Linked DNA regions of Homo sapiens: region 2 is linked to region 1. Evidence: fine-mapped expression QTL. A gene starts in region 1. The other region holds a variant in brackets. All regions are shown on one strand. Distances are between the middles of the regions.

What was found.
Region 2: its variant is fine-mapped to the expression of MGAM in neutrophils (BLUEPRINT, PIP 0.95).

Annotation. Positions count from the first base shown.
Region 1 is chr7:141,993,002-141,998,391 of GRCh38, forward strand. MGAM (maltase-glucoamylase) reads left to right here and starts at 2,878. Exons shown (of 71, transcript NM_001365693.1): 1 at 2,878-2,929. RefSeq lists an enhancer at 2,576-3,077.
Region 2 is chr7:142,104,922-142,110,260 of GRCh38, forward strand. It overlaps MGAM (maltase-glucoamylase), which reads left to right. Exons shown (of 71, transcript NM_001365693.1): 71 at 893-1,826. The coding sequence ends at 970. Among named protein-coding and RNA genes, the nearest start is that of MGAM2, 4.1 kb to the right of the region's middle. The variant GT/G (reference allele first, on the strand shown) is at 2,662.

The DNA.
Region 1 (5,390 bases):
TGGTTGTTGTTCACTGATGGTTCATGAAATCAGAAAAGTAAGGATAAGGAAGTAAACTTTCAAAGAGATAAATTGATTCAATTTTGATTATCTGTCTATGTCTACTGTGAAACGACTGTGATAAGAGATAGTGATTTTTGTTTGTATTTTCCAGATGATATACATGGTTTATAAATTTAGGTCTCTTGGCCCAGATTTTTTTCTGAATTTTCACTAGCCCATAAAGACAAATGCCTAGAAATAGCAGTAGCTGAGCAGGACTTTTTAAACTATGTGTGGTAAAACAGCAATTGTTTTAAAATTGTCCAATATATCACAGACTGTGGCTTTTGTAAAATTAAAACTAAATTACTTGAAAAATAAATTTTAAAAAAGCATATACAGATACAAGCTCCATTTTTTAATTATCAAGATCAATGACATGAAATGATTCTGTCAAATTGTAATGCAAGTCTCTCAACACTTACCTTCAATTTCTGTGCTTATTTTTCTGGAAGCTGGCAACCACAGGTTCACAGATAACTCTTGGAGTATCACAGAGCGGGGAACTCTGCCCCACTTGGAGGAAGGTCCACTTAGTAACAGAGCAAAGTTCTTAACCTGGGGTTTGTAGATATAATTCTGAAAGCCTGTGAACTTGGAGGGGGAAAATATTTACATATCTTTTCTTTGCTAAATTCTAATTGAAATTTAGAGTTAGGCTGCAAACTACAGTGGTGTTAGTAGTACCTATGAATTTGGTTTCAAGAGAGGTCACAGTTACTTTCACATCATATATTTAAAACAATCTCAAGATATTGTTTACGCTTATCATGTTTTTGAAATTGCAATCGCTATTAGACATATCGCTTTATTGTTAGTATGTCATTAAAGAGGCACAAACTATAATTTAAAAAATATTATAGTAACTGTGTTTCAATGTAATTGATTTTCTTTGTATCTCAGCTCACTACAACCTCCGCCTCCTGGGTTCAAGTGATTCTCTTGCCGCAGCCTCATGAGTAGCTGGGATTACAGGCACGCACCGCCATGCCCGGCTAATTTTCGTACTTTTAGTAGAGACGCGGTTTCACCATGTTGGCCAGGCTGGTCTTGAACTCCTGGCCTCAGGTGATCTGTCCACCTCAGCCTCCCAAAGTGCTGGGATTACAGGCGTGAGCCACTGCACCTGGCCTAAGAATTAATTCTAAGAGGGGTTTATAAGCATGTCTCAGCTCCATAAGTTCTTCTTGCCCACTGCCCTCCAAAAAGATCAATGAGAACAGCAGGCATTGCAGTAAATAAAGAGTTGAATAATCACAGTGTTGGCCAAACAAGAGCAGGCAAAAACTTCTCAATCCCCTCTCCCTCAGGATTCAAAGGCTAAGGTTTGTAAAGGGTACTTTGGTGGGCATGGGGCTGGGGAACTTGTATAATTGATTGGCAGGGAATGAAATCACAGGAGCACCTAAAACTGTCTTTGTGCAACTGAGTCAGTTCCCAGGAGGGGTGTGTGTGTTGGCCTCAAGACTAGGTGGTGTCTGTTGGTCTACTGAAATGCTAACAAATATCTAAAAGACCAGTTATTTAGGTTTCACAATAGTGATTGATATGGTTAGGCTTTGTGTCAGAACCCAAATCTTATCTTGAATTGTAATCCCCATAATCCCCATGTGTCAAGGGAGGGACCAGGTGGGATGTGATTGGATCATGGGGGCGGATCCCCCTATGCTGTTCTCATGATAGTGGGTGAGTTCTCATGAGATCTGATGGTTTTGCAAAGCAGTTTTCCCTGCTCTTGCTCACTCTCTCTGGCCTGCCGCCATGTTAAGAAGTCCCTGCTTCCCCTTCCACCATGATTGTTTCCTGAGGCCTTCCCACCCTTGCGGAACTGAGTCAACGAAACCTCTTTTCTTTATAAATTACCCAGTCTCAGGCATGTCTTTATAGAAGTGTGAAAACAGACCAATACAGTGATGTTATCTTTGGTAGTTGGGGAAGTTATGAATTTTGTGACACTGGTTGTGTGACTGGGGCAGTAAGCAACTTATAGAAAAACAAACTAAGCCATGGCAGGACATTGTTTATGCCTATTCTTTAGCAAAGTCTAAGCCCCTACCATAATTCCAACCTTGCCTTATGAATGCGCCTTTAAGCTCCAGGCAAGGAGGGGGATCATTTTCCCTTGACTCCAAGTTTAACTATAAACTAAATCCCTCTCATAGGTTTCTTGGCCTTTGTACTAGAATAAGCAAAAAGCCAACCAAAAAAAAAAAAAATCCCCTAGAAAACATAATTTAGCCTGGGAGGTTAGAAGCAAGATGGAGTCAGTCTTGTTAGATTTCTCTTATTTATAGTTCTGCAAAGGCAGTTCAAGAGTCACCAGACTGTTAAAGGATTTCCATACTGCAAACAAGCTTAAGGACACCTTAAAGAAGAAAGAAGAAAACTATTTTTAAAACATTTTTAAAACAACTTCCTTCCATCACAATCATCAGATTGTGCTACTAAACGTCAGTGAGTTCCTGAGAGATTCGGAGTCAGTGCAAGAGACCAGGGCTCTTTTGGAATACTGGGGTCATTTATTTTTTGCTCTTTATCATCTACAAATTGTGTCTGTGTTCTCTTACCAGACATACAGGGTGTCCTCACCACCGATTAAACATTCAGTGCCTGGAGGGGATGGAGTGGGTCATGGGAGCTGGCTTTTCCTTCCAAAAGTCTTAAGGATGTCCTTCTTAGAGCAAGACCACGATTACTAATTAACTAAAAATTCTGATCCTGGAAATAAAAGCTGGCCATTCATTTGCATTTGAAAGCCATTAACATTTTCTTGATAGGTCGGTAAATAGTTACCAGATCTTTGGTTGCTTTGGTGGACTGTGCTCCTCTGCTTTTATTGCTAAGCCATCCTTCAGACAGAGAGGGAGCGGCTGCAAGAGGTAATGAGGTATGTTTGTGAACCTTGTATTCTTTTACGGTTACAGATGTGTGTCTACAAGTGTGTGTGAATTTGAGTTGATCTCTTTTAGTCAAAATGCCCTTGTTGGCCGGGTGCAGTGGCTCACACTTGTAATCCCAGCACTTTGGGAGGCCGAGGCGGGTGGATCACGAGATCAGGAGATCGAGACCATGGTGAAACCCCATCTCTACTAAAAAAATACAAAAAATTAGCCGGGCATGGTGGCGGGCGCCTGTAGTCCCAGCTACTCGGAGAGGCTAAGGCAGGAGAATGGCGTGAACCTGGGAGGTAGAGCTTGCAGTGAGCCGAGATCACGCCACTGCACTCCAGCCTGGGTCGTAGAGCGATACTCCGTCTCAAAAAAAAAAAAAAAGCCCTTGTTAATTTGTTAAACACAAAGATAAACAACACCAATAATAAATCAAAAATTATGCACATGCATACACATGGAACAAAATTCTCATTTATCTTTTTTTCTTAGTGTGTGTATATTTTTCTGAACTAAGGCTGGATCTATAAGCCTGATTGTAGTGAAACCTGTGTGTTTGTGTGTGTTTCTGTGTGAGGTGTGATGAATTATTTAATACTTAGGTTGAGGTAGCAGGCAGAAATTCTTTCAGATTCTGGAAATGAAGTGAGAGAAATGAATAAAAGGAGTTAGAATTTGGGAGTGAGATTAGAGCATTTTCCCTCTGAAAGGATTTGGAGTTGTGATTGAGAAAATGTAACTGAAGAACCAATTATAATCAGAAAATTGAGAAATATATCACTATGCTTATGGGTTTGGTGCCTCTGTTGATTAAATACAGAATAATTTTAGGGGATAGTCTGAGGATGTGTGTAAAATATTGGGATGCATTTATGAGTTGGTGTGCATTGGTGGGTAGGAGAGGTTTCCTGTGGAATGTGGGAGGAGGTCATAAAGAGAAAGGTAGGGTATCTGTCCTGGCAGTCATGTGTGGAGTAGAATGGGAGTGCTCGTGGGAAGAGGAGAAGGTGATAAATTGTTGTTGGCCCTTAAACTTAAAAACTTAAAATAAAATACTTAAAATAAACTTAAAATAAAACTTAAAATAAAACTTAAAAAAAGTTGGATCCTTACTAGTTGCCAGTCTAGCTAGACACACGCAGGCATTTCTTTTCTGACTGGTTACAGAGGTGGGAAGGGAGAGTTACTCTTGGGGAAAGAGAGAGAAATTGAGACTAATCCCCATGGGTCTCCCTGAAAAAGGATACCACTAGGTTCTTCATGCAGGATCTGATCAGTGGCTTTGCTGGGCGAGGAAGACCTCCCAATGTCCAAACTGTCTACAGTCTGTGTCCTGGTGTGGGACAGTAAGTGTATGTCTGTAGGTGTGCAAAGAGGGGGTGAGATGGAGGGGGTCTTTGGTTTGTTGTGCTGGTAGGTCCCTGTGCTACCAGGGACCAAATGAAGTGGGACACTAAATTTAAGACAGCTTGTTGCTATTTCAGTCACACTCTCACAAGATGCCAATGATTATTTTTTATTATCAGGCATTCCCTCACAAATACATTTTAATGAGCTAATAAAATTACTATAAAAATTGTTCTATAAGCATGGAATGGAACTAGAAAAGAAATTTTCCATTTAAAATTTGTTCAGGTGGCAGCTGTGGAATGTGATGAGAAATATAAGCCTTTGCACACCCTGTTGCTGGGCTCAAGGAGGAGTTAGCTGTCTCCTAGAGATGATCCTTTTGCAGTTCAGATGGGGAAACTGAGACCCAGAGGGGTTAAGTGGATTTTTCCAAGGTCATACAGCTGGCTAGGGTCAGAGCTGACTCTTAAATCTCTCACCTTGGGTGTGACCAGACTTGGAAGAAAAAAGCCATTCATTAGCTACCTTATCCCTTCCCATTCACCAAGCAGCTGGGAAAGGATGGCCCAACCTACTAATATCGCCCAGCATTTTTGATGAATAGCTATGGCTCACTGGGGTCCTCTTTGCAAGTTGTTCTTAGTCTATCTATCCACAATGAATCCTCTTTTCCACTAGATCTCATGTCTTGTGTTAGCAAAGGATTTTAAAAGAATGGCTTAGACCTCCATATACACATCAAACGCTGGCTATAATGCCGGAAAGAGGACAAATATCCAGTTTTTCCAAATTAATTTAGATAGCCATTTTAATAATTTGGGCCCCCATGTGGTTTGTCTACTTTGCCTAAAGAACTATAATGGTACCAGGACAATGAGCTTTGACAATTATTCATATACTAAATAATTCAAGAAGAAAAAAATTCTATTGCTTTTGCGTAATGTATATATAGTAATAATTCTTTTTTTAAATTTTACTTTAAGTTCTGGAATACATGTGCAGAATGTGCAGGTTCGTTACATGGGTATACATGCGCCATGGTGGTTTGCTGCACCTGTCAACCCATCATCTAGGTTTTAAGCCCCACATGCATTAGGTATTTGTCATAAT
Region 2 (5,339 bases), 110 kb after region 1:
AAGCCTGAAACAAAAGTTTTCTTTCAGTTTTGCATTCTTTACAGTTATTTCCTCATACTTGTGGTTTTCTTGTCAACAACTTCCCCAACTATACCATAAAGGACTTTGCCCAATCCTGTTGCTGACCAGCTCAGGGACAGACATGCAAGCTGATGAGGGCACATGCAGTGAAAGCTTCTTGACAGCATCTGCCTAGGAAGAAGCAGGAATAGTGGACTCTTGCTGGGCAAACACTGGGGTGCTATAGTGGAATAGGAGAAGGAGGAAACAGAAGGATGGTGCCAAGGAAAATCAACACCTCAGTAGAATGGAAAAGAGGGCATTCTCTCCAGTTTGTGCAGTTGTTTCTCTTCAGCGGTTGCATATTGAACATTTTTTTTTTTTTTGACTGAGTCTCACTCTGTTGCCTAGGCTGAAGTACACTGGTGCAATCTTAGCTCACTGCAGTCTCCGCCTCCCAAGTTCAAGTGATTCTCCTGGCTTAGCCTCCCTAGTAGCTGGGATTACAGGCACCTGCCACCACGCCTGGCTAATTTTTGTATTTTTATTAGAGCTGGGGTTTCACCATGTTGGCCAGGCTGGTCTCAAACTCCTGACCTCAAATGATCCACCCACCTGGGCCTCCCGGAGTGTTGGGATTACCGGCGTGAGCCACCGCACCCGGCCCATATTGAATTATTTAAAGGCCCATCTCTACCACTGAATAATCTTTGTACTCTAAAAAATTAGAAAACACCCTTCTCATCTGAAACTTTGAAGGCAGTCTTTTAACTAGACAATACAATGTAGAAGTATTAGGGGGTTATTTGGACTGGATACTTGCACCTGATTTATTTGCATGCAGGAAATTTCAACACCGGATGCCCAATTCTTTTCCTTTGGTTCCTAACAGGTATTAAGCATCGATGTGACTGACAGAAACATCAGCCTACATAATTTTACTTCATTGACGTGGATAAGCACTCTGTGAATTTTTACAGCAAGATTCTAACTAACTATGAATGACTTTGAAACTACTTATACTTCATACTCATAAAAATTATTGTGTGTTGCTAATTTGTTCATACCCACTATTGGTGAAATATTTCTGTTAATTTTGTTATATGTTTTTTGTGTGAACCCTAAAGGTTAAACCTTAGCCCTGTGGGATAGGCAGTTAGGGAGGTGTGGAAAATCTATGCATTACCTTAATGTCTCTGTGTGGTTAGTATGGTAGTGACTGTTCATCATATGACATTTACTGAAGATGAACTGGGTCCATGATGAAGTGTGTGTATGTCCACGTTTGTAATCATAGAATGGACCCCATTCTTTTGTTAAATACACAAGAGAAAGCTTTCTGTGACAGTTCCAGGTCTTGAAGCTAATCAGCATCTCAAGAAAGTATCCAGAAAGAACATCTGCTAGTTGGTTATAGGCGGTGGGAGGAATAATATACCTAATTGGTTATAGGTGGGGGGAGCATGATAAGCAAAGAAAAGGCAAACACAAGGAAAGATCAGATGAAACAGAAGATGATAGTAAAAGTGATCCTAAGTAAGAACATAATGTAAAATTGTCAGCAGCCTCATGGGGAGGAAAAAGGAAGAGTCAACTCACTTGAAGAAGAGGGTCTTGAGAAATCCTTAGCATAAAGGGCTACTGGTGAGATTGAGATCTGAGCAGGCAAAGCTCAAAAGAGAGTTTGGAGGTTAAAAATAATTTATTTTTGCAGTAGTGTGCTTTGAAATGTGTAAATCTTATTTCTAATGTATACAACCACATTTCACATAAAAATATGCAATTTATATGCCAGATAAAAATAAAACAAGTGAATTTGCAAGTGATTTTGAATTTTGTGCTATTTTGACCATGAGTAATCTCTGTTTGGGGTTAAGGTTCTTGTTTAGCAAACTCTTATGAATTTGTCTTTCTGGTTCTCTTCGGCATCACAGAACCTACAGCCAAATCCACCAATAGGATGATAACCTTTATAATTATCCTTTTTCTTACATCTCTGCAAGGAGTCTTTTATAAGATGTGGGTTTGTGGAAGGGTCTATTGATTACTATTTTAATCATCATAGCAGTTGCTATATTTAGGAAAATACCAACTCCAGTAAAAATAGGAGTTGCAACCTTCTTGCTTAAAATTCTATAGGGTTAAAATGTGAGATAAGGAAATTATATATTAATGTTCAACAGGAATATTAACTTTTGATGTTACCTGAAAATGAGTTGAAAATGAATGTGTGTGGAATGAATGAACCTACTTCTCTGTGTTTTCTTCTTTTCTTATAACCAGGAAGCCATTCATTCTCCCTGCACACTCATGTGTCAGCACCTGCATAAGGCTAGAGACAAACAATATTGTTAAATCATCTAATTATCACAATACGGGGCATTTGGATGAGGGCCTGAGCTAACTAGGAAACTGGTGAAATATGGAAAAGCAGCCATGGGAATCCTTTGATCAAAAAGGTGGGAAACTTGTCAGCTTTCCTCTAACAAACTCAGGAAGGCCACAAAGATGAAAACGTTATTTACTTGATATTTAAAAAATATTTAATGTTACCATCAAGGATATGTTGGTGGAATTTGGCTCTGGCTGCCACAGAATGCTTAAGGAGAGGCATTCTGACTATATAATTCTGATGGCTAAGGCCCTAGTGAGGCCAGTGGG[GT/G]TTTGGAGCACACGAAGTGTCAGGGACCCCACTGACAGCCTAGTGAAACCTACGGAATTCTTCCTCACAACATTGTTTTTAAATGCATCAAGCAAAATGCATGCTATTTCAAAGAAAACTTATCATATTACGATACACTTATCCAAATATTAAAGATGATATAGTAACCCATGAGATGTGTTTTTTTCATTATCAAATTAAATGAAAAGATCCAACAGTGGAAGTAACAATGCTATAATTTCAATGTAATGATCAACATCAACAATATTTTGAGATATCCACTACAATTTCATAATGTAATATGGAAAGATCTGTGATTGCATTATTGACAAACTCATGTGCTATGAAAACTACTGTGTTTTGTTGTCTACATTCATAACCTAACAAAATGCTAAATTTCAGCCAGAAATGTGTGAAAAAGAGATTATCTGTTGGAACCAATATGGCTTACCGGAGTTAACGCAGAAAGAGCTTGCTGACGTCACAGCCTGAATTTCCACCACAGGTTCTTACTAACTCCCTCCCAAATTTGCACATGAGACCCATGATGAGGCATGAAGAGATAACTGTGCATGCCTGAGGACTTTCTAGATTTCCTCTTTCTTTTACCAATCACCTGCTAATCCCAGAATCCACCCCCTAAGTCTTTTCTGATAAAAATACTTCCTTAAAGCCAGCACAGGAAGACAGGTTTGAGCTGGACTCCTGTGTCCTGTGAGTCGACTTTGCAATAAAAGCTTTTCTTCGAAACCCTTTATCAGAGTATTGGCTTCTAGCGCATCGAAGAGTGAGCCCTTTCGCTCAATAATACCCCCAGAGGTTGTTCCTCAGATCACAGTCTGAGAACCACCTCTCATGGAACCATATCCATTTGTGGCCATCCCAGAGCAGCCCCTACAACATGGACCTATGCTTACAACTCCTGGCCAGCTATTCAGGAAGAGGCTGGGGGCCTTCCTTTTCCACATATGCTCTGTTTTTTAGATCACATAATTTTGCTTTCTTCATAGGTGTGCCAAAATAAAAAAAAAAACACTCTCAAACTCTTTCACTTAAATAGGAAGACATCTATTCCTTTCTTATTAATGTTATAACATTAAATGTCATATATACCTGCAAAGATAAGGTTATGTTGGCCGTGGCAGATGTCTTCAAGATCTCATCAATATTTCTTTGTTCTTGTCATAGCGGCAGAGTCACTGAGAGTTTTGCATCTGGCCTTGGAGAAAGGTGTTCTGGAAGTTAAGGGTGACTCATATTACTAGTTTCTGATCTGATGATTCCAACCAGCAGCTTGCTGTGACAACTGTTTGAGTTCCGCCAATAGCTAACTTTGCCGTGCCTTGTTACCGATAGACAACTGGAAGATGTCGGGTCACGTGCCTGTCTCTACCCTTCAAAGTGGCTCTGTTATTTTCTCATTGGTCAACACCAGTATGGTGATTCAATATCTTCCAGTTACTAGTTAGCAAGAATGGAAGGTGAAGGTAGCTATTTTCTGCACTTTAGGAAACAGGTTATAGATTAGCTGGGCCTGTTGGTTACCACTATTAACATAAATGAAGTCACAAATGTGCATGGCATGTGGGGAGTTAAAGGTAAAATATCACACAAAAAATAGATCTTATGTAACAATAAAATCTCCCTTCTTGACCTTTTGCCAGGATGTCTTCCCAATTTGAAATGAGATCTTGGTACATTTCCCCTCTAACAAAGGCCACCTTGTACTGGGGCAAATGAAAAGCTGAATATGTCATTCCAGCAGTTCATAAATGCAGAAACCGAGTCTCTCTTTCTCTCTCTCTCTCTCTGTCCCTCCCTCTCTCTCTCTCACTTTCTCTCTCTCTCTCCGTGTGTGTGTGTATGTGTGCTTTTCCACATACTGAGCATTTGAAGCAAACACAAAAGATTCACTACTGTGAACACTGTTATTTACAGTTCTTAGGTGCCACCAAAAGAGCTCTCTGTACCCTCATATATTACTGGCAGGAATGGGGGTGTAAAATGGTGCTGCCACATTAGAAAGCAGTTTTGCAGTTCTTCAAAAAGTTAAAGACTTGTCACATGACCCATGATTCCACTCCTAGGTATATTCCAGGCAGAATTTTAAAACGTGTCAGCTCATAGCAGCATCGTTCATAACAGGCAAAAAGTATCAACAACCTAGATGTATATCAGCTGATACATGCCTAAACAAAATGTGGTCTATCCACGCAGTGGATACTATCCAGACATGGAAAGGAACAGACACTGATACCTGAAATGGTGTGGATGAACTTTGAAAATATCATGCCAAGTAAAAGAAGCCAGACACAGATGGCCACATATTGTATTACTGCATTTATATGAAATGTTCACAATAGGCAAATCCATAAGGACAGAAAGTAGGTTAGTGGCTGCAGAAACAGGGGGAGATGGGAATGGGGAGTGACCACTAATTATTTTTGGGGGTGGCAAAAATGTTCTGGAATTAGATAGTGGTGATAGTTTCAGAATTTTGTAAATATATTTTTAAAAACACTGAATTGTATACTTTAAAAGAGTGAATCTTATGGTTTGGAAATTATATGTCAATTTAAAAATCCACTTTAGCTGGCTTAAGAAAAATTTTAAAAAGATATTGGTGACTCATTGAAACTCCGGTAGGACTAGAGAGTCAGGTTTGTAGGCCATGTGG